Linked DNA regions of Homo sapiens: region 2 is reported to be linked to region 1. Evidence: microRNA targets listed by miRTarBase, many of them from high-throughput screens and not tested one by one. Region 1 holds a microRNA gene; the other region holds the end of a gene's coding sequence.
The links. The annotated mature microRNA hsa-miR-3147 reads GGUUGGGCAGUGAGGAGGGUGUGA and lies in region 1 at 7,065-7,088, shown strand. An mRNA with a match to its seed (bases 2 to 7 or 8) in the 3' UTR can be bound and repressed. Matches are read on the target gene's strand: a 7mer-m8 pairs with bases 2 to 8, a 7mer-A1 pairs with bases 2 to 7 and ends in A, and an 8mer does both.

Region 2: miRTarBase lists FZD2 as a target of hsa-miR-3147. Seed matches in the 3' UTR shown: 8mer at 4,757-4,764 and 7mer-A1 at 5,224-5,230.

The regions. Positions count from the first base shown.
Region 1 is chr7:57,397,966-57,413,072 of GRCh38, forward strand. It overlaps MIR3147 (microRNA 3147), which reads left to right and starts at 7,060; the gene lies at 7,060-7,125. It overlaps MIR3147HG (MIR3147 host gene), which reads left to right and starts at 6,802. Exons shown (of 3, transcript NR_120505.1): 1 at 6,802-7,030; 2 at 10,311-10,436; 3 at 12,969-14,182. LOC105375299 (a long non-coding RNA gene) reads right to left here and starts at 6,154. Exons shown (of 2, transcript XR_927305.3): 1 at 6,091-6,154; 2 at 4,032-5,172.
Region 2 is chr17:44,554,771-44,569,877 of GRCh38, forward strand. FZD2 (frizzled class receptor 2) reads left to right here and starts at 2,714. Exons shown (of 1, transcript NM_001466.4): 1 at 2,714-6,492. The coding sequence starts at 2,919. The coding sequence ends at 4,616. RefSeq lists enhancers at 1,209-1,978, 1,979-2,746, 2,964-3,924 and silencers at 2,421-2,520, 2,919-3,165, 3,411-3,460, 12,398-12,598.

The DNA.
Region 1 (15,107 bases):
CAATCAAATATGTGTTTGTCTCAGGTGAGCAGAGGGATGACTTAGAGTTCAGTAAAGTTCTTGGTGCTCACAAGGAATTTCCTAGCAGGCAAATTGGGTGAGAGGTATGTGGATTTTTTATTTATTTATTTATTTATTGAGATAGTCTAACTCTGTAGACCAGGCTGGAGTTCAGTGGCATGATCTCGGTTCACTGCAACCTCCTCCTCCCAGGTTCAAGTGATTCTCCTGCCTCGGCCTCCCAAGTAGTTAGGATTACAGGTGTGCACCACCACGCCTAGTTAATTTTTTTGTATTTTCAGTAGAGACCAGTGTATCATCAGGTTGGCCAGTCTGGTCTCAAACTCCTGACTTCAGGTGATCTGCCCACCTCAGCCTCCTAAAGTGCTGGGATTATAGGCGTGAGCCACTGCACTTAGCCTCTCTCCCTGTATCTTCACGTGCTTGCAAACCCAAGAGGGAGCTCTGGGGCCCTTGGTTAGGGTCAGGGCCCCAGAGGCCCAGGGTCAAGGCTATGGCTCCAACTCAAAGATGTGCATCCCTGCAAGAGAGGCTGCATCCAACAGGCATGGAAGAGGCTCCACTGTGGCCTGCTCGAATTCCTGCTGTGGAAAGCAAGAGGAGGTGTTCCTTGAAGAAACAGGGGGATCCCACCGATCTCAGGGGTTCTGTCCTGGCCTGAAGCCATGGATCGTCCAGCCTGTGCTGGGGTGGGGAGCCGACCTTGCCGTTCTTGGCTGGGGCTGAGGGTGAGGGTCCCACTTCGCCAAAGGCCTAGGCCGGGGTTCCAGCCACAGGCCCCACTGGGCAGCACCGGGCCCCGCCCCGCCCCACCTCTCCAGGCCTGGTGCTCACCCTCAGCAAAGATAGTGAGGATGGTCTCAGACACGTCATGCGACCCATCCACCAGGCTTCTCCCACACTGCTCTTAGCCCCACAGATGGCAGCCGAGAGGTGGAGCGGAAAGTATGACCCAGTGGACAGGGGTGACCTGGTGACGAATCCCTAGACAGCGCAGATGAGGCTGTGGGGCAGCAGGCGAGTAATCTGTGGTGAGAGGGGCTCCAGGGAGTCGGAAGACAGGCTTCTTCCCCCACAGCTGGAGGCCTCCACATCAAGAGAGTAAGGGGTCTTCCTCCCCCAGCCCTGCCCTCCTGTGGCCACAGGGCCTGAAATGCCTCCATTAGAGGGAGCAGAGAAACCGCCTGGGTGAGCTGGGTTCAGTGTAGATTTGGCAAAAGCTGGGACAGGGGACCCCATGACCTTGTGACTTGTTAACATTCCACCATAGAAGTAACTGGGGGTGTCTAGTGGCCTTGGAGTCCAGCTGGGGAGACAGGGGAGAGGAGGGGGAGGGCTGGGGGAGGCAGCTGAGGGTCCTGGGCTGTTCCAAGTGGGAGACCTGGGGAGGGGGTGTCTGGGCAGGAGTGATTGGTGATATTTCAGGGGGCAGGTTTTGGGTGGGCACCTGACAGTGGGGGCTCACCACCACTACCACCCCAATGGCCAAGGTGATGTGCCTTCTCTGTGGGGGCTCACCACCACTACCACCCCAATGGCCAAGGTGATGTGCCTTCTCTGTGGGGGTTCCTTACTGAACTGGTGAACCTGGACACTGCCATGAAGGACTGTGTGGATGGGAGTGAGCCTGGGGCAGGCAGGTTGGGGACCGGGATCCTGAGGTTTGGGAGGAAACAGCCTTGGACTCAGCCCTTCCATCTCAGCAAGCCTCCTCTTGTGTGAACCCCACCGTCCTCCCCATGCCCCCTGAGCTGGGGCGTCAGGCCCATTTTACCTCTGAATGGTGGAGGCTCCAGAGCAGCTGCCAGTCCCTGTTCCCTGAGTGGTGAAGCTGCAGAGCTGCCTGACTGCAAAGCTGCAGGAGCCGCAGGAGCTGGACTCAGCCTCTCCCTCAGGCGGTGCCCACGGAAGGAGAGGGAAATTATGCCCCTCCCAAGTCAGGCAGCTCCTAAGTGGCCGAGCATTTTCTTTGTATACTGGGCCTCCGTTTGTCTGTCTGTTGTCAGAGAGTGTTGGGGCAGAAGGTCCCTGAGCTACAGCTCCCACACCTCCTCGTCTAGAGCCCAGAGCCTGATGCAGGTCCCAGTGCTGTTCTATGCACATTTTTCACCCCTGCTGGCCTGGCAGTGTGGGAGGGTGTGGGGATGGGGGCAAGTCATGGGCCAGGGTCCTTTCTGAGGGTCTTTGGCTGGCTGTCTTCCAGGGAAATGTGATCAACACCCAGAAAGGAAAAAGGGGCGCAGCTGGGGCCCTCACTTTGGGGGAGGATGGGGATGTGGAAGTCAGAGACCCCCACCCACTGACCCTGGGTAGAACACTCCCCGGCTCCATCCTCTGCAACCTGGATTTATTGGGAGGGTTTGATACACAGAGGACGAGACCCATCCCAATGGAGGGTGTGGGTAGGGGACAGGAATCCTGGACAAATTCCTAGCGGGGGCTGTTTCTCTGTTTATATCCAACTCTGAGAAAAGGGTGGGGCTGCATGGGATTGGAGAAGAGGGGACCTACTAAGAGAAAAGCCCTAGAGATCAGCCCCAGTTTACTCCGTCCCCAAGGGCCCTTCGGCATCTTCCACCCAGGCCCTGTCAGCCTCCTGTTTTTCCCCTCTGGCTCCAGGAGATTAAAGTCCTCCAAGAAATGCAGCTGCTTCCGTGACAAGAGGGAATTATCATCTTCGGACTCAGGAGGTATGGGGTTGGTTTCAAGTCCGTGGAGCCGCACAGTCTGATTGAGAGGTGAGAGCCTAGCGGATTGACAGAGGGTGGGCGGAGACTCTGTCTTGTGGTCAGTTTCAGACATCCTGTGGCCACGGCTCCCTGGTCAGCAGCAGGCCCTGTTGAATGGGCAGGCACTGGGAGGGAGGCCGGAGGTGTGGCTCCTGGAGTCTCACAGCTGCTGCTGTGTCCTACAGTTACAACCTGTCCTGCTGCTGAGCCCCATCCCAGTAGGCCAGCCACACCCTCAAGGCCAAGAATACCAGGCCATGAAGAATCTCAGGTCTACTGAGTGCCCAGGTGGCAGGGGCAGAGTGCCTCAGGGCTCAGTGAAGTTTGGGCTGGGCTCCCAGCTCCACTGTTATCAGCCCTGTGACTGGGGCAGGGGACTCACTACTGTAATACTTGAGCATCATTGTCATAATTTTAATGTGTCTGTCCAATCCTTTTCTCTTTTTTATCTCCCTCTATCATGTACTACTGATCTCTGTTAGTATTTTTGTTCAAATAAATAAACATATGTTATATAGTGTGTATTATACTTTCTCATGATTTCTTCACTATACTGTATGACTCCACTCATACAAGGTACTTAAAGTAGTTAAGTTTACAGAGACACAAAGTAGAAGAGTTATTCCTGGGGCTACAGGAAGGTAGGTGAGGTGTTTAACGGGTACAGAGTTTCAGTTTTGCAAGATGAAAAACACTCCCTATAAATATGGAGGATGCTCGTAAAACTGTGTGACTCTGCTTAATTCCTTTGACCTGCACACTTAAAGACTGTTAAAATGAAAAAAAAAATTGTTGGCCGGGCGCAGTGGCTCAAGCCTGTAATCCCAGTACTTTGGGAGGTGGAGGTGGGCAGATCACCTGAGGTCAGGAGTTCAAGAACAGCCTGGCCAACATGGTGAAGCCCCATCTCTACTAAAAGTACAAAAAATAGCAAGGTGTGGTGGTGCATACCTCTAATCCCAGCTACTCAAGAGGCTGAGGCAAGAGAATTGCTTGAACCCAGGAGGTGGAGGTTGAAGTGAACCAAGATTGCACCACTGCACTCTAGCCTGAGCAACAGAGCGAGACTCCATCTCGGAAAAAAAAAAAGAACAGACTATATCTATCTGCAACAGCATGAATGCATATCACAAATATAATGTTCCATAAAAGTAAGTAAATGTAAAAGTGTACATACTATATAATTTGATTTATACAAAATCCAATAAGCAGACAAAACTGAGCTCCTGGCTTTCAGTAACACTGGAGTAGCTTGTTGAATTAACACAGATTATAATGATGAAACTTGAATAGTATATTATATATTGTTATAGAAACACATCTATATAATACAAATATGACCTACGTGTGAGTAAGAACTGAATGAGGATTTCAGCTGTGCCCACTATAGGGGAGATAGGTGTTGACGTTTGAATCTAGCCCAATTAACACCATTTGTAAACAATAACACTGCTTTTCAAAGGTACACAACATAATCGAGAGTCTCTATAATGATTCTTTACAGTTTTAGTACACAACATTAAAATTCATGAGACGTGTGAAGAAACACGAAAATGAGATCCATACACAATTTAAAAAGCAGGCAGTAGAAGTGATCCTAAGATATTTAAGATGTTGTAATTCAGGATGTTTAAAGGCAGCCATTATAAATCTGTTCATGGGGGTAAAGGAAAATATTCTAATCATGAATGAAGAGCTGTGGAACCTCAGCAAAGACATGGAAATTACGAAACAATAGGAAGATAAGGAAATTTAAAAAATACTTTTGAGCTTATTCAAAGATTAGAAACAGAACACAGAGCAATAGAAATTGTCCATTCTGAATAAAAGAGTGAAAAATCTTAAAGAAAATGAAGAGTCTTAGAGACCTGTGGAGTGATTGAGTCCAAGTTGAAGAGGGGACAGGAAAATTAAATGAGGTACAAAGTAAATCACCAACTAATAGCTGAAAACTTCCAAAATTTGTCAAAACCCCCCAATTTTTATACCCAACATGTCAACACACCCCTCCAAAAAATACAAATAAATCCATACCAAGGCCATATTGTGATTTAGAAGACTAGCAGGGCAGAGCTTTCTATTGACTTGCTGTGATTTCTAATTTTAACTACTTAGAAGAATGAAAAATAGGTTCTCCTTAGAGTTTTTTTTTTTTTTTTCTTGGAGAAAGTCTGACTTAGGCACAGATGACTGACAGTTATTAAAGGCCAATGACTTTCCAGCCTTCTCTTAAATTTCCAGTGTCTTACGTTGGAAATTATTTAAATTCGTTTCTTCCAAATCCTGCAGTAATACTGATGCTCCAGAAAGATGTCCCACGGAGATTCTGCTCTTGTGCGTCCCTCCTGCACGGAGCTGAGGCTGTGCCTCCTCTAGTTTCATTAGCGTGTAGTCGTGGGGTACTTCGAGTTAATCTGGAAAACTAAATGTTAAAATGGATTCAGGCCGGGCACAGTGGCTCACGCCTGCAATCCCAGCACTTTGAGAGGCTGAGACGGGCGGATCACTTGAGATCAGGAGTTCGAGACCAGACTGGCCAACATGGCGAAACCCCATCTGTACTAAAAATACAAAAATTAGCCCGGCAAGGTGGCGGGTGTCTGTAATTTCAACTACTGGGGAGGCTGGGGCAGAACAATTGCTTGAACCCAGGAGGCGGAGGTTTCAGTGAGCCCAGATCGAGTCAGTCACTGCACTCCAGCCTGGGCTACAGAGTGAGACTCCGTGTCAAAAAAAGAAAAAAGAAAAATGGATTCAAAGAATTATCACTGTTAAGTTCCACCAGCAAATTATTAAACGTGGTTCCAAAGGGATATTTAAAAAGGGAAATTAAGTGTTTCCATGAAGGTCCTATTCACAGCAGAAACGCAGACACTGTTCATGACCTCACCACACAAACTTCCCTTATGTGTTGGGAGGGACCAAGGGGCTCTCTGGCCCTGCACCTGCGTTAATTACGGCCGGGAGGTCCACACTAGGACCCCAAGGTCTGGGAACCAGCCTGGATCGGGGGCAGAGAAGCGGTGGATGTGGCTCCCAAAGTGTCTTAGGGGCTCCCTTCCCTGTGGCTGTTTCCTGACTGGATGCAGCAGGGTCAGGCCTTTCGCTGTGACGTTTTCAACTCTTTGTCAGAGTGGCAGGAGCGTCCCTGTGAGAGGCCTGACCCAGGTGTGGGTCATGCAGCCAGCCCGGGGTCCAAGGGGCACTCCTGGGATGAACAGGAGGATTTGCGACAGCCTAGAGGATAGAGGAAATGGTGGCTTTGAAAAGGCAAGTGCTAGGTTATCAGGGAACGCATATATCCATTTCTGGCAGCGAACGGACGGTTTCAGACACTCACGAGGGAGCTTCCCGCGTAGGATGCCAAGAAGTCGGAGAACAGTCAGACACCTGGCGATTAGCCCGTCCTACGCAGGGACTACACTGCGCATGTTCAAAGGGGGCGTGTCAGGGGTGGGGCGAGACGGAGGGGCGGTGCCGAGGGGAGAGGCAGCGCAGAGGGAAGGAGCGGGGCGAGGAGAAGGGGCGGGGCGAGTACTGCTCCAAGATATGGCAACCGTGACAGCTTTGCGAGTAGCTCCAGGTCCCCTGCTGCTCCGTGAGAAATCAAACTTCTGGCAATGACGAAGCATGAAGCCAGCATCTCAGGGAGAGGTAGTGACATAATTACACGATAAGACAAGCCGCCTGGTCTCGCTGTCACTTGGCAGGCAAGAGAGGTTCGGGAACAACCAGGCTCCCCTTTGGCATGGCAGAACTGCTCTGGACTCGGGAAGGTGTGGATTGGAGGGCGGGAGCTACGCCTGGCATACTGGGACTTGTCATCTTTGATTAGCTTCCAGTTTTTTAATTGCAGGGCGACCGGATTACAATCCCAGCCAGCATGAACATGGGGCGGCGCGCAGTCCTGAAGGGGGAAGCCGGGCTGTGCCGGCCTGGCTCTGCCGGCCTGGCTCTGCATGCTGGGAGCTGTAGTCTCTTCACCGCTCCCGCCCGTTGTTTCAAGCGCTTCGGGACTGCAATCCCAGCATGCCCCGGTCTCAGGGGCGGGGCGCAGTTCTTGCGGGAGGAGCGGGGCGGTGCGCTCCTGGCCACGCAGGCTGGAAACTGTAGCTCTTAACGGTTCCCCGCCCGTTGGTGGCAAGGCGGCTGGACTAGAATCCTAGCAGGCGATATGCGAGAAGGCGGGCAGCCCAAGAGGGTTGGGCAGGGCAGTGTGGATCTCGCCGCTTCCACAGCGATGCTGGCTACTGATTTCGGACACCTCCTTGCCATGGGATGTGAGTCCGGAGAGGGACAGGAGGGGCAGGTCCGGGTTGGGCAGTGAGGAGGGTGTGACGCCGCGAAGTGCACCTCGCCCTTGTCCAACTCGGACGGGTGTGGTCCTCACCTCACTTCCCGCTGCTAGGCTGGGTTCCCTCTCCCACCTGCACCCGGGGTCTTTCCTGGACATCACGCCTCCTCCAGCCCAGGGAGCCACCTGCTTTCCTAAGCTGCTGTGGGAACTGGCCTGCGGTCCAGGCACTGTCCACTGTGCCGCTGCCCTCTTTTCTCTCCAGCCAGAGCGCAGTGCAGCCGCTATGGGGAGAAATCCGCCGCCCGGCCCGCCAGTGCACAAGTTCAGAGCTTTGCGTGGGGCAACATGCTCTGTGGCTTCATGAAAATGTCACCCTCACCAGCGCCTTTTTCGCGGATGTGGATGTTGAGGTGGCAGAGAGGGTCATTATTGGTTTACCCAGGAGATGCTAACAGCAGAAGAGAAAATCTCACATCCCAGGCGTGTGTCTCTGGTGCGCCATTTTCCCCCAACCCATTTGGTGGAAAGTTCCCCAAATAGCTACCTAAAGATGAAGATAGTTTAGGCATTTTACACGTGACATCATTGGCCTCATCTCAACCGAGGCCTGACTGGGCAGTGTCTCAAAGACACAATGGCAACCTGATTCTCAGGAACAGGTGGTGCTCCAGCTTTGTGTGAGCGACTTTCAAGGTATAGAGCACTTGGGGAGTCTTTGAAACTCCTCAGGCTTCACAACTTTGCTTTGAATGGAATGTTCATCACCCCCGGCACTCACGGAGGTACCTTTACTCTCTCGGGCTGATCTGTTTAATTTTTCTGTCCAGACAATGGAAACTTCTGGGAGCACTTCTGGTTTCGTGTAGCTTCCTAATAATTGATGTCCCTTAATTCCAGGTGTCCTCAGGGAAAGTTCCTTTGATTCTGGAATGGCTCCAGCTTTTATGCTTTTGTGTTTAATCCGTAAAAACCAAGGTGTTAATCTACATAAAAATAAGACCTTGTTCATATCACACATTCCAACAGGCTTCATTTCTGATTCCTGAATGCGGATTACTATTTTAAAAAAGCCTAAAAACTCTGGTCATGGATATTAGACACTGTTATTGTACTTTGTGAAGAATTTACTCCTTCAGGATCAATTACACACGGGCTCATCAGCACCTTTGTCAATAAAGGAACAAGAACCATGTGGCATCTATGGATGTGGTGAGGTGAAGTATAGGGAGACCACAGCATAACAGCTCTTCCCTTGTTTTCAGTAGAGTTTGTGGGGTCAAGTACCTGCATTCTTCCCCCATCCCTCAATATTCTCATTCTACTCTTGACTGTTCCCTCTTTAGGTGGGAGTTTCTAAATACACTCGTCCGCAAGTGTTGGTGGGGATGTTGTAATGTGAGTTCATCCATCATCCGTCACCTTAAAGATGAATGGAGAGGATTTTGTGATCTGTGTTCAAGAGGCACTGCTGTTGGGTGGGTGGCTGCAAAAACACGTGATCTCAGCTGTCCCCAGCAGCTGCCTCACAAGATTGGTCCTGATGCAGCCACAGCTGCTGTTCACAGAGCCAGGAGCTCCTTGCAGTTTGGTGTATTCTGCTGAGATTTGTGGCTCTGACCCTCCTCTGCTCACCCCATTCCTGGTAGTATCTGCTCAGCTGCCTGGTTTGGTCCAGTGTTTCCTGGGAGCCTGTTGTGTAACTGCATTTCAGAGGGTCTTTGGGGATTCCACCCTCACTACACCAGTCACTCTACACTGGCCATGCACTTAGCTTCTTGGGGCCCTGTGTGTGTCCTCTTCCAGTGGAGCTGTGAAGAGTTCTAGTTAGGGATAGATCTCATTCTCATGCACCTCAGGCTGCTTCAAAAGCTGATCATCTCATCTTTGGACACATGGACATTATTCCTTTTGTGTATTTTGAAGTCTGATGCTGTTTTTTTTTTCTTTTTTAAAAAGTAATGTGGACCCTTACAGTAACAGTAACAGTCATTTTTAATTATCTTTGTGAATTTAACTCTGGCAACAATTTCATGAAGTTGACATGTGGTTCTCATTTTATAGGTGAGAAAACTGACACTTGGAGAGGTAGAGTAGCTTTATTTACTTCACACAAGCTTTTGATGAATTTCAAGTCTCAACCTAGAAGTCTTCCTCTAAGGTATGACTGTGGCATATTCTTTGTGTTTCTCTGCCAGCATCCCGAAGGGGTCCACATCCCATTTGGACTCCATTTTCTTCTTAATGACAGGAAACTTCTAGAAACAGGCCTTCAGTTGGGGAGAGCACTTGCTGGCCCTTGGCCTTCCCTATCCTCCGCCTTCCCCTTGGCAGGGCTTAGGTGATTTGAGGGAGCTGGAGCAGCGACCAGCACTTACGTGGAATGCTTGTTGTTATGTAAAGATAACACCCACTCACTTTTTGAGGTGCGATTTTTTTGGTTCTAATTATTCCTCTGGGATTTCTCTTCCAGGTTCGTGCTTTCACGCACCTGTAATTCAAATACTGATGAAAACAAAACTATTGCCCTCCTACCAAATGGTAACAATGTGTGTATGTTTTTCTGTTTCTAATTATAAAAGAAATGCATGCTGTTTGAATAATGGCAGATCATAGAGATCTTTATGTAACAAAATTCTCCCATGTCTTCCTCTTCGTTCCAAACTCACTCCCTTCTTAGAAGGAATTATTATAGCTTGGTGTTGATTCTTCTGGATGTTTTCTATAAATTTATAAATACACATAAAGTTGGCCAGGTGCGGTGGCTCATGTCTGTAATCCCAACACTTTGGGAGGCCAAGCAGGGAGGATCCCTTGAGCTCAGGAGGTCGAGGCTGCAGTGAGCTGTGATCATGCCATTGCACTCCTGTCTGGGCAACAGAGTGAGACCCTGCCCCCCCCAACAAAAAAAAGAAGATAAATACATGTACAGTTTTTGAACACAAATTGTATCATACTATATTTTTTAATTTTGCTATTTCACAGGCAATATATCATTTACATTATTCTATATCAATGCATGAGATTCTAACTCCCTATTTTTAATGTCTTAAATGTATTCCAATGGGCATACAAGATTTGTTTCACTGTTTATTCTTTTATAGAAACTTAGATTATTTCTAATTCCATTGTAATTAAAAAATGCAGTGATAAGATTCTTGTACATAATTTACTACACTGACAACTAACCGTTCAGTTTATCTTGCCTTCTTTTAGTCAGAGAATATGTCACGAGTTTAATATTTATTTTATGATTTGATTCATAGGGAAATTAATGTTATGACTGGATAAGACAATTGTGAAGAAACTGCACTTCGAGGTTGTCTGTCTCCGTATTCCGATGGAAAAGGCTGGACTTTAGAAGCATTGCTCGCTCCTTCAGTTTCTAACAAGTCAGTATTCTCATAGCAATTTAAATTTAAATGTTTGAATTGTTTCTCCTTCCCTCGTTCACCTGAAACTTCTGACTCCAGGGTTTTTCAGTTGGGGTTTAGAGAGGATAACTCCCATATCGCTGTTGTATCTATTTCTCTTCAGCATCTGGCTGCATGTGCTAAAGATCATAGAATTAGACCAGGTCCTGTATATATTTTGGGACCAAAAATTCAAAGTAATCAACTCAAGACAGGAGTCTACAACTTTGATTCTTAACAAAAGATTTCCTTTGATTTCCCCAAATCTTTATGATTCCTAGAAGAAATTCACCCATGGGTGAAGCATGTGGTTCTGTTGAATAACATTTTGTTGGGGATTTCCACGTCGAGTTTCATGAGGCATACTGTTTTCCAGGGTTTTTTTTTTTTTTTTGGTACTGCCTTTCTCTGATTCTGTTGGAGAGTAATACTAGCCTTCTAAAATATATTGGGAAATGTTCCCTCCTCTGCTACTTTTAGACAATATTATACTCATAATGACAAGTTTTCTGTAAAAATGCTCTGAAAAAAAAATGTAGGGTGGGCTGGGCATGGTGGCTCATACCAGCACTTTGGGAGGCCGAGGCAGGCAGATCACTAGGTCAGGAGTTCGAGACCACCTGACCGACATGGTGAAACCCCGTCTCTACTAAAAATACAAAAATTAGCCAGGCATGGTGGCGTGTGCCTGTAATCCCAGCTACTCAGGAGGCTGAGGCAGGAGAATCACTTGAAACCAGGAGGTGGAGGTTGCAGTGAGTCAAGATCACGCCATTGCACTATAGCCTAGGTGACAGAGCAAGACTCTGTCTCAAAAAAAAAAAAAAAGTGTAGGGTGCCTTTTCTCTTTTGTACTGGGTAATATTATTTATCTTGATTGGTATTTACCCATATAGCTGCCAATGGTTTAATGAGCCCCCATCTTCTACTCACCAATCTTACCCCTACTTCAGCCACTCCTCCCTACTCTCTGGTACTCAGCCCCGTGTTTTTCTCTCCTCACATTCTCAACCCTATCTCTTTAATGTGGGGACTTCCATGCGTTGCCTATATCCAACCACCCTGCACTGCCAGGAGGCTCTGCAGGCTCTAAGCTGGGGCAGCAATGTGGTCCCCTTAGTTTCAGCCTCCAGACCTCAGTCCTGTGCTCCTTGCAGATGCTTCTAGTGTCTGGAAACATCTGGTTCATGTAGTTGGTCTGGCTTCCTATGTGTTTGGTTCCAGAGGGAGTCTGTTTCTTGCTCTTCCACCATACAGAGAAGGCAAAGCTCTGAATTGATTTTGAAATCAATTCTTGATTATTTCTTTTGGAATGAAATACATTGTCTATTACTTTATGATGACATAAATATTGTAGCTTAGTTTGTGACAGTTAGAGTTTCATTTTTATTTATTGTTTTACAGGCCATGCCACCATGCCCAGCTAATGTTTTATTGTTTGGCAGAGACATGGTCTCACTCTGTGGCCCAGGCTAGTTCCAATTCCTAGGTTTACACAATTCTCCCACCTTGGCCTCCCAAAGCGCTGGGATTACAGGCATGAGCCACTGTGCTTGGCCAATAGTTAAAATTTTAAATTATTATGTACAATACTGTGATATGCCATATTTAACTTATTCAGAGACAAGGCTTTAATAAAAATTACTTTATGTTAGAATATTTTTCTTTAATTTTTTCAGATTAGTTTTCTTTTTTTCCCCCTAATCTTTTTGTTCTAGCCTCAGTCGCCTTTACCCTGAGTTTCCATGTTTCCATCCTGGGCAGCAGAGGCAGCTCCATGGATGATGGGCCTGTGGCTCTGTGTACTTGGAGCTCTTACCCAGTAAGACTTTGTGACCAGGAGGCCTCTTTTCAGGACAGATCACCTGCATGTAAAACAAAGAGCCCTTCCAGGCCAGGAGTACTTAGCCAAAATCTTTTTGCTTTCGCATTTTATTTTTGTTTGTTAGGGTTTTTTTTATTTCTTTGAGACAGGGTCTCTGTTGCCCAGGCCGGAGTACAGTGGGACGATCTTAGCTCACTGCAACCTCTGCCTCCTGGGTTCAAATGACTGTCTTGCCTCAGCCTCTCAAGTAGCTGGGTTTACAGGCTCACACCATGGTATCCTGCTAAGTTTTGTATTTTTAGTAGAGACGGGGTTTCACCATGTTGGCCAGGCTGGTCTCAAACTCCTGACCTCAGGTGATCCACCTGCCTCGGCCTCCCAAATTGCTGGGATTAATGGTGTGAGCCACCACAGCCAGTGAGTTTTTGAGTCATTATCCATCATTGGACACAATAAATATCCAGACACACAGATGTTCTCCAACATGTCTATGAGTTTAGAGATTGGACATTTCTTTTTCCAGGGATCCTGGTTCTTGACCTTCTCATTTAAGGTTTTGTCATCTCCCAGCAGCAGACACAAGGTTTCCTTAAGCCCTGTCAGTGTAGAGGGGAGGGTCTTTGAAAAGTACCAAGGATACACTGTGAGTATTTCAAGATTTATCCACATTTCTCTGTCTCTTCCAGGCCAGTTCTTGGAGATACTAGGAAGCCAAGAGTTTCCTCCAGGAATGGAGATTCCTTGGAAGTGAGGTTCACCTTGAGTCAAGAAAGACGAATCACACACGGTCAAAGGCAATTGCCCAGGGTCTCAAGAACAGAGCCAGAAAGAAGAGCTGGGGCCGGCGGGATTGTGGGGGTCCTCTCTCCCACCTGAAAAGCTACAGCTGCCTGCCGATCCTCTCAAGAGGAGACCTCTCTGGGCTCCAGCACCTAAAACAGACAAACCTGGGAGGATGCTTCTCTCTTCTGTGTCACACGTGTCCTGGAGAAAACCCATGTATCTGAATGACCAAAGAAAAGTATGAGAAAAAGTGCAAAATCTGTGCCAGGCCATTCAGTGTCTGGCTGGGGCTCTGGGGTGCACATGCATTCCAAGAAGACTGAAGGGTGCCAAGCCTGCAGGAAATGTCCATCAGACCTGCCTCTCACACCTGGAGTAGGACTGCCCGTCCAGCTTCATGATGCAGAACTGTCTTTAAAAGGTGACTGCAGATATGGAGAGAGGGAATTCTAACCCTGATAGAACATGACCAGCTGTCCTGCTGGGGAAAGCTGCATCTACCAGTGACACGCTGCTCAAACTGGCCCAGGACACACTCTTACTACTTAAGGAATAAGCCCCACATTTGCTCTTTGTGGGTAAAAGGAGAGGGTGAGAGAGGAGGGGAGTGTCCGCACAGACATGAGAAGCCTGCAGATCCAGATGACCCCTTGCTGATCAGAATATGAAAGATCGATATGCGGAAACAATGACCCCATAGCAGATGAGCTTCTAGAGCAGGCTTCAACCATGGGTCATCTGGACCCACTGGTGGAGAAGTCTGCCCCCACTCTATGTTGATGGTCTGGGGGATACCATTACTGAGACAGATTTAAGAAATAATCTCTACCTGTTGGCGAAATCTGGATGGTCACTTGTGCGAGACAGCAGTGTGCTCTCATCAGCTTTCCACAGGGCAGGCTGCGGAAATGGTGCTGAGAAGTCCTTTTGTAAATTGATTGTCCATGGCTGCAGACTTACCATCAAATGGAAGAAGATTCCAAGCTCTCAAAGAAAAGGAAAAATAGAAGGATGGAACCACAGACTCTGGGATCCTGCCAGAGCCTATTTCAGTGCTGCCAGGAGCTCCTCCTCCCCCTGCAGCTCTGGTCCCCACCTTGGAGCCTCCTTCCAAGGAGTGAGACTACCTTTCTGACTTTTTCTGACCATAGACACCTTTTCTGACTTTTTCTGTCCTTGGCACCTGCTGAGGACAGCAGACCCAGGGACCCGGGCTCCTGGGCCCATTCTTGCCCAGCTTCTTCTTGATCATGTGACTTGAAGGCATTCTTGTGCAGTGGAAGCAGGGCCCCAGGACCATCTGATAGATTGATGGTCTCTGGCCTCTGCTCCACTGATGGTCGGATGGTGGCCACTCAGGGTGTGAGAGCCTAGCCATCGCTGCTTCCTTGAGTTGAAGAGGTTGGAGGCTGGTCCACCTGCTCCTATCCCACCCTTGGCGATGTGGATGGTTGCTCTTTGAGCCTGGTAACGTCACTGCCTTGGCCCTGCCAGGCATGCCTGCCTTGTGGGGGCCCTGCGTACCCACACACTACTTTAAGGGGCTTGCTCTTCCTTGGGCCAAATTCTAGTTTTGGCCAGTGCCCCAGGAAGTTCAGTCCCCTGTTTTGTTATCTTGGCTATTTCTGGGGCACCCGTGGTTCTCCTGGGTCCCTTTTCTCCCAGGGCTTGGGCTGGGCTTGGCATCTGTAGGTCTGGGATGTTTGCCCTGTGAGGGAGGCTCTGTCACACAAGTGGGCAGGCATGGGGACATGTGACAGGCTGCTGGCTGGCTAGGGCTCTGAAGATGCCACAATCCTTCTCCTCTACAGCAGCCTCTGAGTCCAGCTTCCACATTGACACTGATTTCACCGGGCGCAGGAGCTGCCTGGGGTTGTCTGGGTGCTGTCTTGGCTCCTTTAAGGCTGTGCTGCTCAGTGGCCCCTGAGAAAGGTCAGGTCCAGGTGCCACCATGCAAGGGGAGTGTCTATGGCCCTACTGCTGGGATTTCAGTGGGCTGGGCAAGGCCTGGTTGTGGGGGCCCTGATGGTCTTCAGGGCCAG
Region 2 (15,107 bases), not on the chromosome of region 1:
TTTTTTGAGACAGAGTCTCGCTGTGTTGCCCAGGCTGGAGTGCAGTGGCGCGACCTCAGCTCACTTCAGCCTCCGACTCCCGGGTTCAAGCCTCAGCTCCTGCCTCAGCCTCCTGAGTAGCTGGGACTACAGGCATGCACCACCATGCCCAGCTAATTTTTGTATTTTTTGTAGAGACGGGGTTTCACTATGTTGGCCAGGCTGGTCTCAAACTCCTGATCTCAGGTGATTGCCCGCCTTGGCCTCCAAAAGTGCTGGATTATAGGCATGAGCCACTGCCCCCGGCCTACTATAAATTTTTGAAGGGCAGATGCTGTCATCTTTTTCCACATTCTCCATAGCCCCTATTATGGTGGTTTGAAATAAGAAAAAAAGTGTGTTGAAGGAATGAAAGGTTGCCTGAGTGAATGGAAGAATGTCCTCTATTTCCTGTTTCCAGCTCCCCAGCTCCCCATCTGCCTTGGGGTGGCTGGGAGGGGATAACTGTCATTCAGACCTGGCCCTAGGCCAGGAAAACGGGTTTGTCATGGAAGGAAATTGAAGATGCTGCGTTTACATTGGAGATTTGCTCTCAATTTCCTATCGGACTGCGAGCTTCCTGAATGGGGTATAGGAGCCTGTCATTCATTTTTGTTTCCACTGCTCAGCTTCCATGTTTGGTACCGGCTCTCAAGATGCTTTGAGATGGACTAGGCAGGAGATCTGAGGATCAAAAGCTCAGGCTCAAATGGAGCAGAGAGAGCACAACATTCCCATCCTTAGACTGCTCTGAGAGAAAATGGGCTTGCTGGTGGAATAGAGATGGGTGGGCTGGAAATGGGATGCACAAAAAAAGGCATATCCCCCTCGACACCCACTCATGCCCCAATTTTGAAGGAAAATTTTCATCCTGGTGTAGGGAAAAGGCAAATTCCCCAGGATGTAATAAGGAACATTTTCAAGTTGTAAGAAACCGGAACATCTTTATATCATTCATTCGATCAGGAAAAAAAAATTTTTTTTTGAATCCTGTCAAACCTGGATCCCTTTGTATCCATCTACTTAGAATATTTTTTCCTTCTCCCTACTCCTTTCCTCTTTTTGTTATTTTTCTTCTTCTGCTGTTGTTGTTTAAAACAATTCTTTTCTATATTGGAGCAAGAAACATTTCACCAGACTGTGAGGATTTGGCCCATACTGTGAAGCAAAGGGGCTTTCTAAACTCAATTTTCTTTCTTCTTTTTAAGTCCCCCCTTTCCCCTGTCCCTCGGGAGAGACAACAGAAAATAATTGATCCATCATCCAGTATCAGGCCCAGGAGATTTACATGCAAATTCCTCCTCGACCCCTTTCCAAATTTAAAATCCTAGAAGGGAAAAGAAAAATTCTAAAAGTAGCAGGAACCCTGCTGGCCACACCCCACCCCTTACCAGGTGAGAGATGTGGAGGGGATAATTCACCACAACCCCCCAGTTTCCTCCCGCGTCACACACGCCACCCCTCTCTGGTGTGGAACCACTTAAGATTTGGGTAAAACTCCCCTCTCGCCCTGGAGACGGGATCTGGAAGCTTTTAGGGGGCGGAGGTAGAGGTGGGGAGGCAGAAGGAAAATTCCCTCAAACGTTCGTCAGGCCTAAGAGAGTCGTCCCTTCACTCAAAATTGCCCGTCACCCCCCGCCCCCCACCATTAACTTTCGATTAAGACCTCCTCCTTAGGGCAACTAAACTTTACTTTGCACAATTAAGATTTGCCGCAGAAGAAGCGGGAGGGAGAAGCCGCAGCTCCGGGCCATTCTCCTTTCCCTCGCTCCCTCCAAGCCCCCCGCCCCAACCCTCCAGCTCCGGGCCTCCGAGTTCCTGAGTTTTCTCACTTTGAGGTGCCACCGAACACAAAGAACCATAATGGGCTCCTTTGTGTTGGCTACGGGGCAATTACGCCTCGGAGTCCTGGTCCCTTTAAGAGTCTCTTAAAGAGACAGGATCCCATTTTTCAGAGGGTTTTTTAAGGGTGTGTGGAGGGGGAGGGCGAGGGATCTACGTGTAAAGTGAAGTGAAACTTTCGCCTGGGCTCCAGAAAGAGCGGACAGAAAAGGTCTTTGTAAATTGTTAGTTTTTTTAAAGTCTGTTTTAATTTTTAAATTTGAGATTTTTCACTCGATTTGAAAAATTGGACTAGGAATAGGTGGGGTTCGAGGATCGGGGGCGGGGGCAAGGGTTTAAAGAGTCCCCACCCGGCAGAGCACCTCGGCCCGGGAAGAGGAGTGAGCCAGGGTCGAGTAGTGTCCCCCGATCTCGCCGCGGCAACTCCGGAGAAATCCCGGGCTGGGCAAACAGCCCTTAATATAATAATAGCTTGTCTCTTTAAAAAGCAAAAGGGGGGGAAAGTTTTGTTGGCATCTGGTTTCTGATCTCATTATGTTGTGGTCGACCAATCCAGCCCTCGGGCCTGGTCCTCGGGTTTAAATCTGATTGGCCGAGAGCACATTTTGGGTTGGTGCTTAGAGCTCGACGGGGCGGTTTCAAGGATCCCTTTTTTGGGGGGCTGAGGAGAGGGCGGGGCCGCCAGCGGGGGCCCCCTTGAAACCGACTAATTGGGATCGGAGAGGCCGAGGTGAGGGCTGGAGGAGGCACAAAGAAGTCGCTGGGTGCAGAAGGGAGGGGAGAGGGGGAGCTGAGAGGCGAGAGGAGGAGGAAGAGGAGAGAGGGCAGCAGCGCGCGGTGTCTCCGGCTGCTCAGTCCGACCGCGGCAAGCAAGCGGGCAGGCGCACCGCCCCCTCCCCCGCCCGGCCTCCCCAACTCTGCGGCCGCGAGTAAAGTTTGCAAAGAGGCGCGGGAGGCGGCAGCCGCAGCGAGGAGGCGGCGGGGAAGAAGCGCAGTCTCCGGGTTGGGGGCGGGGGCGGGGGGGGCGCCAAGGAGCCGGGTGGGGGGCGGCGGCCAGCATGCGGCCCCGCAGCGCCCTGCCCCGCCTGCTGCTGCCGCTGCTGCTGCTGCCCGCCGCCGGGCCGGCCCAGTTCCACGGGGAGAAGGGCATCTCCATCCCGGACCACGGCTTCTGCCAGCCCATCTCCATCCCGCTGTGCACGGACATCGCCTACAACCAGACCATCATGCCCAACCTTCTGGGCCACACGAACCAGGAGGACGCAGGCCTAGAGGTGCACCAGTTCTATCCGCTGGTGAAGGTGCAGTGCTCGCCCGAACTGCGCTTCTTCCTGTGCTCCATGTACGCACCCGTGTGCACCGTGCTGGAACAGGCCATCCCGCCGTGCCGCTCTATCTGTGAGCGCGCGCGCCAGGGCTGCGAAGCCCTCATGAACAAGTTCGGTTTTCAGTGGCCCGAGCGCCTGCGCTGCGAGCACTTCCCGCGCCACGGCGCCGAGCAGATCTGCGTCGGCCAGAACCACTCCGAGGACGGAGCTCCCGCGCTACTCACCACCGCGCCGCCGCCGGGACTGCAGCCGGGTGCCGGGGGCACCCCGGGTGGCCCGGGCGGCGGCGGCGCTCCCCCGCGCTACGCCACGCTGGAGCACCCCTTCCACTGCCCGCGCGTCCTCAAGGTGCCATCCTATCTCAGCTACAAGTTTCTGGGCGAGCGTGATTGTGCTGCGCCCTGCGAACCTGCGCGGCCCGATGGTTCCATGTTCTTCTCACAGGAGGAGACGCGTTTCGCGCGCCTCTGGATCCTCACCTGGTCGGTGCTGTGCTGCGCTTCCACCTTCTTCACTGTCACCACGTACTTGGTAGACATGCAGCGCTTCCGCTACCCAGAGCGGCCTATCATTTTTCTGTCGGGCTGCTACACCATGGTGTCGGTGGCCTACATCGCGGGCTTCGTGCTCCAGGAGCGCGTGGTGTGCAACGAGCGCTTCTCCGAGGACGGTTACCGCACGGTGGTGCAGGGCACCAAGAAGGAGGGCTGCACCATCCTCTTCATGATGCTCTACTTCTTCAGCATGGCCAGCTCCATCTGGTGGGTCATCCTGTCGCTCACCTGGTTCCTGGCAGCCGGCATGAAGTGGGGCCACGAGGCCATCGAGGCCAACTCTCAGTACTTCCACCTGGCCGCCTGGGCCGTGCCGGCCGTCAAGACCATCACCATCCTGGCCATGGGCCAGATCGACGGCGACCTGCTGAGCGGCGTGTGCTTCGTAGGCCTCAACAGCCTGGACCCGCTGCGGGGCTTCGTGCTAGCGCCGCTCTTCGTGTACCTGTTCATCGGCACGTCCTTCCTCCTGGCCGGCTTCGTGTCGCTCTTCCGCATCCGCACCATCATGAAGCACGACGGCACCAAGACCGAAAAGCTGGAGCGGCTCATGGTGCGCATCGGCGTCTTCTCCGTGCTCTACACAGTGCCCGCCACCATCGTCATCGCTTGCTACTTCTACGAGCAGGCCTTCCGCGAGCACTGGGAGCGCTCGTGGGTGAGCCAGCACTGCAAGAGCCTGGCCATCCCGTGCCCGGCGCACTACACGCCGCGCATGTCGCCCGACTTCACGGTCTACATGATCAAATACCTCATGACGCTCATCGTGGGCATCACGTCGGGCTTCTGGATCTGGTCGGGCAAGACGCTGCACTCGTGGAGGAAGTTCTACACTCGCCTCACCAACAGCCGACACGGTGAGACCACCGTGTGAGGGACGCCCCCAGGCCGGAACCGCGCGGCGCTTTCCTCCGCCCGGGGTGGGGCCCCTACAGACTCCGTATTTTATTTTTTTAAATAAAAAACGATCGAAACCATTTCACTTTTAGGTTGCTTTTTAAAAGAGAACTCTCTGCCCAACACCCCCACAAGGTTTGTAATTAAAACTGTAAATAGTCTTTGTAAATTTAATTATATATATTTTCTATTTAAAAGAAAAAAGGAGAAAAAAAAACAGGGGTGTGGGCGCCAGGACTGAAGAATGAGGTGTGTGTGTGTTGGGGAGTGTAGTTGGGGGGAGGGTTCTCTTTCTTAAGTGCCCTTCAAAACCCGCCCCACTTTTGGAGTTTTTTGGTGATATGGCAGGGCTGGGCCTGATGGGAGAGGCACCCAGCCTGAGCGCTGTTTTTGTTGGCTTTGAGTCGTTAGGAGTTTGTTCCATTCAACTAATATAAAAGCCAAATTTGTGAGCCTCCTCTCTGACGCTGGGCCTGTGGAAGCCGTTGGATATTTTTGAACAGGACTTGGATTCGTTTTGTTTCCTTCCCCCTTTTCTTTCCCTACTCATTTGTCCTGTCTTCTTCACTCACTCTTGGAAAAGTCCCAACAGAGATGAAGACGTGGAAAAAAAAATCGGGGTCGGGGTGTGCTGGTGGGGAGAGGGCAGAGATCCGGTGAGGAATGGCTTCCACCCCCTGGCCCATTCCCCTGCAGGCTGGAAGATCTTTCTCCTGTCTGGCTTCTCTTCTTTTCAATTCGCTGCACCAAGTGCTTCCAGTGGCCCAAAAATGCTTTTTGAAGTGTGTTTTGAAACAGCCCCCACCAACATACACCCCACCAGGAGTACTGATCCTGCCTCCCTTCATGTCTAGGGGAAGCATTCGCCTTTGAGCACTTGTTTGCAAATCTGGGGAGTTTGAGACCTCCTAGCATCTCTTCCCTTCTTTCCCTGCAGTCTATTCACTCCCGCAGCCAAAAATCTCTGGCGTTCAGGTTAGCAGTTTCTGGGTTGGTTTGTGTGGGTTTTTGTTGTTGTTTGGGGCTTATTTTTTTCAAAAAGTGATAAAGACGGGTGGGTTGGAGGGAGGGGACTGATGGGCTGGTGGGCTTTTTAGTTTTCCTTTGAGAAAAAGACTGGTTTATTTAAAATTTGTCCAGAAAAAAATGAAAAAAAAAAAAAAGGTGGTATCTTTGCTTTAGAAGAAGTCTCTGGATAGGCCCTTTGTGGCTGTGGGGGTGGGTTGAGTGTTTACATTACATTCTATATCACAAGATTGATAGGATGTTTAAAGCAGATGTTTCTTATCTTCCCCTGAGCCCCTACAAATAAAGTCAAGACTTTTCTTTTTTTGAGACGGAGTCTTGCTCTGTCGCCCAGGCTGGAGTGCAGTGGTGCGATCTTGGCTCACTGCAACCTCCACTGCAGCGTTTCTCCTGCCTCAGCCTCCCAAGTAGCTGGGACTACAGGCGCACGCCACCACTCCTTGCTAATTTTTGTATTTTTAGTAGACACAGGGTTTCACCATATTGGCCAGGCTGGTCTCGAACTCCTGACCTCGTTATCTGCCTGCCTCGGCCTCCTAAAGTGCTGGGATTACAGGAGTGAGCCACAGTGCCTGGCCTGTCAAGACTTCTCTTAAGTTAACTTCCTGAGAAGTGATGTCTAAAAGTATCTTTGCTGGTGTGAGAACTCCAGTTTCCAACACATATTATTTCCCTCAACTATTTGGAATATTTTAGAATTTTAATTCCAAAGGATTAGTTTGAATACAAGTATGCCACATAACTCAGTTTTCGCCATCTTCCATTTCTTAACAGTGTAAATTAAAAGCTAATAATCATAATAATAAAGTGCATTTAATTATCTTTGAGAGATCTATCCTTTTAATTGTATTTAACAGGGTTGTAACATTTTATTAGTTTAACCAAACCACACCTCCTCCTCCCCTCTCTCCCTTACCTACTTGGCTGGGGGTGGGGCAGAGAAGAGTGCTCCCAGCCCTGGACCTTGCTTTCTTAGCTAAATGGTGATGGGAGAAATGGTGCCTTACCACCCTTTGTTGGCTGTCTTCCGGACAAGGGAGAAAGTTAAGTTAGAACCCCTACTTCGAAGTGTTTGCTTGTGTTAGTTTATGTTGGGGGAGGGGAACTGGAAATGTTTGGTGGTAATTGAAGTGATATGTGGGGCTTTGTTTGGAATTGTATGAAGCCTGTGGATTTCAGCAGCGCCCCCTCCCAAAAATATATAATTTCCCCCCAAATCATCTGTGTCAGTGGCCAGTTAAACCTAGCTTTTTATCAAATGATGACAAGTGTGAGATCTCAACATGAGGTTCCCTCAATTATCAAAGAAGCAGGCGGGAGGAGGTGTCACCGCCCCCGGCTCCATTTGTTGCAGGATTCTAAAGGGACCCCGCAAAGGCTGCAGGAAAGAGTAAAATTACAAACAAATTGTGAGTGCCTCTCCTTGTAATAATGGGAAAAGCCAGAGAATCAGGTGGGATTTTCCAGTACCTGGTATTGAGCTCAGTGGGAAGAGGAGCTGGTCTCTGTTGAAGATTGGGGAGAGCCTCTCCCACCTATAAGCCACCCAAGATCTTGGCTCTGTGTGCTTTGGGTACATTTGTCCCTGGACCCTCGCACTGAGCAACCCCCTCCTCAAAGTCTCCTGCCAACATAAAGGAAGAGAGCCTGAGACACTGACAAAATAGATTATATGACTGAGGAGGAAGACAGATAATAAGACAGTTCCATCTTTTGGAAAGAACAGATCTTAGAGATACCCTTCCCCTTCTTCAGGGGGAGTAGCCAAGGGCTGAATTACCCTACTGAAAATTGTTGTGGGGGAACCCTCCTCTCCACACCCTTGTCCTGTTTCTTAAATGAAACACTCTTAGAGGAAGGGAAGCTTTAGACCACAGTTTGGGGAATTTGGGGTAAAGAGGAGAAAGCACCCTGGAGGAAGACTCAGAGGTAAACCACCTGAACTCACTGCCTCACGGGAGAGGGCACCTCAGCTCCCTTGTTCAGAAAACCCAGTTAAAAACAGGAGCTTAGAGATCTGCTTTTGGAGATTTCTAGGTCGTCCTTTGAGCAGAAAAGGGTTTCCATGTTGTAAGTGGGCTGGTCCCTCCCTCTGGAAGAGCGAGGCTTTGTGTTTGCTGGAGGGTCAGGGCCAAGAAGGAAATACACTCACCTGTGGCACCTGGGCCTGGGGCAGGTCTCAGGCCCACGCTGCTTTCTGCCTGCTCTTCTGCCCTCCCCCAGGGCAATGGTCTGGGGTTTCAAGGTCCCAGGCATTTCTCCTCCAGACTCCCCCCTCTTATTGATCAGGCTTTCCCTCCTCCCAGCCCAGACTTCCCTCCAGAAGACTTTAACGTTAGTTCCAAACTTTTTGCCCTTTAAGATTTTTTGAAGAGCTAGCTCTAGAAAAAGGCCACTAAAGTTTCTCAAGACAAAATTCTTCTGAACATCCCCAAAGAATTAAGATTAGGTTCAGCCCAGTGGGATGGGGAACTGCTTTTTGTTCCAAAATCTCTTCAGGAGGGTGGGGAGATGCTGTCCCGGGGGTGCCTGCCATGGGGTCTGAGCCGGGCGAGCCCTCCCTTCTGCAGTCTTGCTACTCACTGTACCAGGGTCCCTCCTCCTCTAGAATCACTCTTCTTACCTTAAATGGATCTTAAACTTCTGGGGGCCACTGACCATCTGAGAATCTCAAAACTCTTTGGACCTCTTCCTGGAAAAAAAAAATAGCCAGATCCCCCATGAATATGCAATTGTGTGTAGCTTTAGGAAGTTTCTAGATCATCCCTCCCTGACCTCTCTCCCTACCCGCCTGCCCCCAAACTAGTTTTCGAGTCGCTGGTCTAGACATTTTTTTTTTTTTTTTTTGAGACTGAGTCTCACTCTGTCGCCCAGGCTGGAGTGTAGTGGCGCGATCTCAGCTCACTGCAATCTCCGCCTCCCGAGTTCAAGCAATTCTCCTGCCTCAACCTCCTGAGTAGCTGGGATTACAGGTGTGCATCACCACACCTGGCTAATTTTTGTATTTTTAGTAGAGATGGGGTTTCACCACGATGGCCAGGCTGGTCTCAAACTCCTGACCTCAGGTGATCCTCCCGCCTCGGCCTCCCAAAGTACTGGAATTACAGGCATGAGCCGCCGTGCCTGGCCTGTCTAGACATTTTCTAGTCCTGATTACTAGCTACCTCTCCTTCTCTAAAGGACAGCCCTTACCTTCTCAGACTCCAGTATCCCCCGGTCTCTAATCACCTCTGCTATGGAAAGGGGGTGGGGGTGAGGAGGGAAAGCCACTGGGCCTACAAAACCAGGAGTACCCCGGAACCAGATTATTCACTCAGTTCAATCCTGCCCCTTGATCAGGTAACAAGTGATCAAGATGCAGCAGAGTGGAATATGGATGAATGAAATTTGTAGTTGGGAAAAACGGAGAGAGAGACAGACAATGTATGGCGAGCAGAGGCTTTGACATGCTTTGGTACCACTCACTGCAGTAGTAGCTGTGAGCACTTGTGGCATTTTTCTAACCTCTGAGCGTGTGTCCTCATCTATAAAAAGGCTGATAGTACCTGTCTGGTAACATGAGTAGTAGACGGGACCATACATCTACAGAGCCCTCAGGCAGTAGTTCAATAAATTGTAGCACTTTTCCAATTACTTAGAATACATTTATTTATTTATTTATTTTGAGACGGAGTCTGGCTCTGTCGCCCAGGCTGGAGTGCGGTGGCGCGATCTCGGCTCACTGCAAGCTCCGCCTCCCGGGTTCACGCCATTCTCCTGCCTCAGCCTCTGGAGTAGCTGGGACTACAGGCGCCCGCCACCACGCCTGGCTAGTTTTTTTTGTTTTGTTTTGTATTTTTAGTAGAGATGTGGTTTCCCCGGGTTAGCCAGGATGGTCTCGATCTCCTGACCTCGTGATCCGCCCGCCTTGGCCTCCCAAAGTGCTGGGATTACAGGTGTGAGCCACCGCGCCTGGCCCCCACTTAGAATACATTTCCAAAAATAAAATCAGTGGATCAAAAGATCTAATTTCTTGACAAGAGAAGTGTTACCAATAGTTTTTAAACTGTTCCCTATCATTTAAAAGGACCACAGTCTTCCCTTCCCAGCACTTCCCTATCATTTCCTCCGTGTGAAGAGGTACATCTAACTGCCCTTAGAATATGGACGATGACTGGTCTTAGCTGCTTCATGCTGATAGGGGGCATTGTTTTGGGGAAAACAGCAGTCAGACTCCTCCTAGAGGTCTATCTAAGGGTTCCTAGGAAAGGGGAGCCATCATCCGAGGCTCCGATTGCCTGACCGTTTGCAGTTTGGTGGCTTCTAGGCGCAAGAGAATAAAACAAGTTTTATAAGGTTAAGTGTGCATAAATTAAACGTGTATTATACAAGGAAAGAATTTAGTGCCAAAGATTCCAGAGACAAGAAGTAAAATATACTAACAACATTGTACCCTGAGCTGTAAGAAATTAAACCTTATATAGGAGCAGTTCAACTTGAGAAGAGATAACTGTTCTTGCCATATCTTTTAGCAGTTAACAGGTGCACCCTGGGAATTCTGGGATTTGTGGACTTGCACGATGGCCATTAAAGCTTTTGCCTCTTTCCTGTATCTCCTCTCTCTTTCCTGGGCCTCCCAGTCTCTATTATAAAAGACCAAGGTGGCTACTTTCAGGAGTTTCTTCAAAGTACTATCTGGTCCCGGGGCCTGTTTTTGTATCTTCCTTCTGATGTCAGGAGCTGCCCAAGTAATAAATTGATCCTTTAGAATTAGTTGTCCCTCTACTGAATCAGGAGATAGAGAGAGGTGCTTTACCAAGCTCCCTCTTAGCCTCTCCAGGAAGGCAGTGGGATTTTCATCAAATCCCTGGTCAATCATGGACAATTTAGTATAATTGAGGGGCTTGGTCCTAGTTCAATGGTATTGAAATGAATGGTCCCTTCCTGAGGCCACGCCAGTCCTTCCTATAAATCATAATTTGGCCAAACCTTTGTGCAGAGGGCTATGAGGTGCTTTTCCTTCAGATGCTGAGGGTCAAAGCAATCCCAATGGTTCAGAATACATTATACTCCAGAAGAGTATAAGCTGGGGGTGGTGAAGAGAACTGGTTGCCCATTCTGAAAGACAGGGAAAAAAGGCGTCCCCTACTCCCTTCCTTCTTTCAGCGAATACTCAGAGTGTGATGGAGAGAGAAAGCGAGTATCCTCCCTGCACCCTCCACCTCTTGTCCCTGAGCCCTGGTGACCTTGTCAGGTGCCAGCCATGGGTACCAATGCGGTATGTACCCATGAAGCAGGGAAAACCTGGAGAATAGGAATTAACTGCTCTCATCTACACCTCCCTTTCTCCCTCCCTTTCTTCCTGCTGTCAGCAAACTGAGTTCCCTGGGCCTGTTTGTGCCATGGAACATGGCCTCCTTCTATGTGGTGGGGGGTTCACTCGTCAGGAATTGGTTCTGCCCATTTACATTGTGCCTGTTGCCTGGCTTTGGATCCCTCGGACCTGGTTTTTCTCTCTAGGGCCTCAGCCTGAAGCCTGGAATCGAATTTGGGATTGAAAAGTTGGTTTAGAGGCTGTTTGTATCTGTTCAGAGTGTCTCAGATGTGCCCTGCTGAATTTGCAGTTCTCAGCCAGCAGGGGTCGCTCCTCCGTTAACTTCCCTATCAGAAACTACTGGGATGGGGGAGCCCTCTCACTTAGAAAAGGAAAAAAAGAAAAACAGTTAAAAGGCCAAAAAGAGGAGGATTCTGGGAGAAGAACCCCTTGCTTACTGCAAGTGGGCCCCCCTAATCCTTATATCTTTCCTCTAGTTCAGACCGTGTTGAATTCTTTGGCCAGGGGAGGAAAGGTTTTATTGGCGCAGCCGGCAAGAAGCGCCCATCCGTTTGCCCTGTTTGGCTACCACCACGGCTTTCTCCCGCCCACTCTTGGCTGTTGGGCTTGGCCTTTGCCTGCTGCGGGCACGCATGGGCGCCTGAGCTGGGAGGGGAAAGGGTGAAGAAAGGTGCCCTGAGCCATGCCTGTGGCTGTCAAGGTAAAGGTGTACATGGCACCTCTAGGAAAAGTTGGTCTGATTGGCACATTTCAAACCGTGTGAGAGCGGCTGGGTGCGCTGGCTCACGCCTATGATCCCAGCACTTTGGGAGGCCGAGGCGGGCGGATCACAAGGTCAGGGGTTGGAGACCAGCCTGACCAACATGGTGAAACCCAGTCTCTACTAACAATACAAAAATTAGCCGGGCGTGGTGGCGCTTGCCTGTAATCCCAGCTACTCAGGAGGCTGAGGCAGGAGAATCGTTTGAACCTGGGAAGCGGAGGTTGCAGTGAGCCAAGATCGCACCACCGCACTCCAGCCTGGGTGATAGAATGAGACTCCGTCTCAAAAAAAAAAAAAAAAAAACAAACAAAGAAAAGAAAAAGAAAAATGAGGCCCAGAGGCCAGAGAGACACTGCCTGAAGCTCACAGGTAATTGCAGAATTGGAGCTCAAACCCAGCTTTTAGTCCTTATGCTTTTTTTTAGACTAATTTTTTTAGAGGAAGGTACAAGAGTTCCCATATACCCCTGTCCCTACACATACATAACCTACCTTCCCCATTATCAACATCCCTCACCAGAGGAGTACTTTTTTTTTTTTTTTTTTTTTTGAGATGGAGTCTCGCTCTGTCGCCCAGGCTAGAGTGCAGTGGCACATCTTAGCTCACTGCAACCTCTGCCTCCCTGGTTCAAACGATTCTCCTGCCTCAGCCTCCCAAGTAGCTGGGATTACAGGCATCCACTACCACGCCTAGCTAATTTTTGTATTTTTAGTAGAGATAGGGTTTTACCATATTGGCCAGGGTGGTCACGAACTCCTGACCTCAGATGATCCGTTTGTCTCAGCCTCCCAAAGTGCTGAGATTACAGGCATGAGCTACTACATCCGGCCACCAAAGGAGTACATTTGTTACAATTGATAAACCTACACTGACACATCATTATCAATCAAAGTCCACAGTTTACATTAAGGTTCACTGTTGGTTTACTTTCTTGTTTGTTTGTTTTTGAGACAGGGTCTCTGTCACCCAGGCTACAGTGCAGTGGTACGATCTCGACTCACTGCAGCCTTGACCTCCTGGGCTCAAGGGATCCTCCCACCTCAGCCCCCCAAGTGGCTAGGACTACAGGTGTGTGCCACCACAGCTGACTAATTTTTGTGTGTGTGTGTGTGGTTTTTTTGTTTTGTTTTGGTTTGGTTTTTTTAGTAGAGACAGGGTTTTGCCATATTGCCCAGGCTGGTTTTGAACTCCTGAGCTCGAGTGATCCGCCTGCCTTGGCCTCCCAGAGTGCTAGGATTACAGGTGTGAGCCACCGTGCCTGGACTTGTGTTGTACTTTCTATAATGTATAATGACATATATACAACATTAAAGTATCACACAGACTATTTTCGCTGACCTAAATATCCTCTATGCTCTACCTATTCAACCCTCCCAGCCCCACCAACCCCTAGCAACCACTGATCTTTTTACTGTCTCCACAGTTTTGCCTTTTCTAGAATATCATAGAGTTGGAATCATACTATATGTAGCCTTTTCAGATTGGCTTCTTTGACTTAGTAATATGCATTTCAGGTTCCTCCACGTGTTTTTGAGAGGTGACAGCCTGCTGGCAGCCCTCGCTCACTCTCGGCGCCTCCTCTGCCTGGGCTCCCACTTTGGCGGCACGTGAGGAGCCCTTCAGCCCACCACTGCACTGTGGGAGCCCCTTCCTGGGCTGCCCAAGGCTGGAGCTGGCTCCCTCAGCTTGCGGGGAGGTGTGGAGGGAGAGGCGCGGGCAGGAACTGGGGCTGCACGGGGCGCTTGGGGGCCAGCGCGAGTTCTGGGTGGGCGTGGGCTCGGCGGGCCCCGCACTCGTAGCGGCCAGCCAGCCCGCAAGCCCCGGGCAGTGAGGGGCTTAGCACCTGGGCCAGTAGCTGCTGTGCTGGATTTCTCGCCAGGCCTTAGCTGCCTCCCTGCTGGGCAGGGCTCGGGACCTGCAGCCCACTATGCCTGAGCCTCCACCCCTTCCTCTCCCCCACGCCGTGGGCTCCTGCACGGCCCGAGCCTCCCGGAGAGCGCTGCCCCCTGCTCTAGGGCGCCCAGTCCCATCGATCACCCAAGGGCTGAGGAGTGTGGGTTCACAGCGCGGGACCCGCAGGCAGCTCCACCTGTGGCCCCGATGCGGGATCCACTGGGTGAAGCCAGCTGGGCTCCTGAGTCTAGTGGGGACTTGGGGAGCTTTTATGTCTAGCTGGGGGATTGTGGATACACCAATCAGCACTCTGTATCTAGCTCAAGGTTTGTAAACACACCAATCAGCACGCTGTGTCTAGCTCAGGGTTTGTGAATGCAGCAATGGACACTCTGTGTCTAGCTAATCTAGTGGGGACGTGGAGAACTTTTGTGTCTAGCTCAGGGATTGTAAACGCACCAATCAGCACCCTGTCAAAATGGACCAATCAGCTCTCTGTAAAACAGACCAATCGGCGCTCTGTAAAATGGACCAATCAGCAGGATGTGGGTGGGGCCAGATAGGAGAATAAAAGCAGACTGCCCCGACTCAGCAGTGCAAGCAGACTGCCCCGACTCAGCAGTGGCAATGTACTCGGGTCCTATTTCTCCGGGGGGGGGGGGGGGGGGGGGGTTGGGGGGTGGAGAGAGGAAGCTTTATTCTTTCACTTTTTGGAATAAATTTTGTTGCTGTTTGTTCTTTGGATCTACACTACTTTTATGAGTTGTAACACTCACCGGGAAGGTCTGCAGCTTTGCTCCTGAAGCCAGCGAGACCACGAACCCACCGGGAGGAACGAACAACTCCAGATGCGTCGACTTAAGAGCTGTAACACTCACTGCGAAAGTCTGCAGCTTTACTCCTGAGCTAGTGAGACCACGAACCCACCAGGAGGAAGAAACTCTGAACACATCCGAACGTCAGAAAGAATAAACTCTGGACACGCCGCCTTTAAGAACTGTAACACTTACCGCGAGGGTCTGCGGCTTCATTCTTGAAGTCAGTGAGACCAAGAACCCACCAATTCTGGACACATTTTCGTGGTTTGATAGCACGTTTCCTTTTAGCACTGAATAATGTCTGGCTATTCCACAGTTTTTCAAAGCAGATTAATTATGCCCTGGCTACCAACTTGCTTGAGTTGGGTGGAACAGAAAAACCCCCCCAATCAAATAAGCTACACGCACCAGATGTATTACTTACAGATAGGCAGCAAGGGACAGCGTAGCCTAGGACTCAGCCAGTCCCCCGAGGCTCACAAAAGCTGCCTGGGGTGAATGGAGTCTTGTCAGTGTGTATGTCTTGCTTACCTCACTAGCAAACTGCCCTGGGTTTTGTATCCTAGGGACAACAGGACTTGGTGGGCTAAAATGTTGAAGGACGTCCTATTTCTTTCTTGTTTTCTTTTTTTTTAAAGGATATTCTATTTCTAG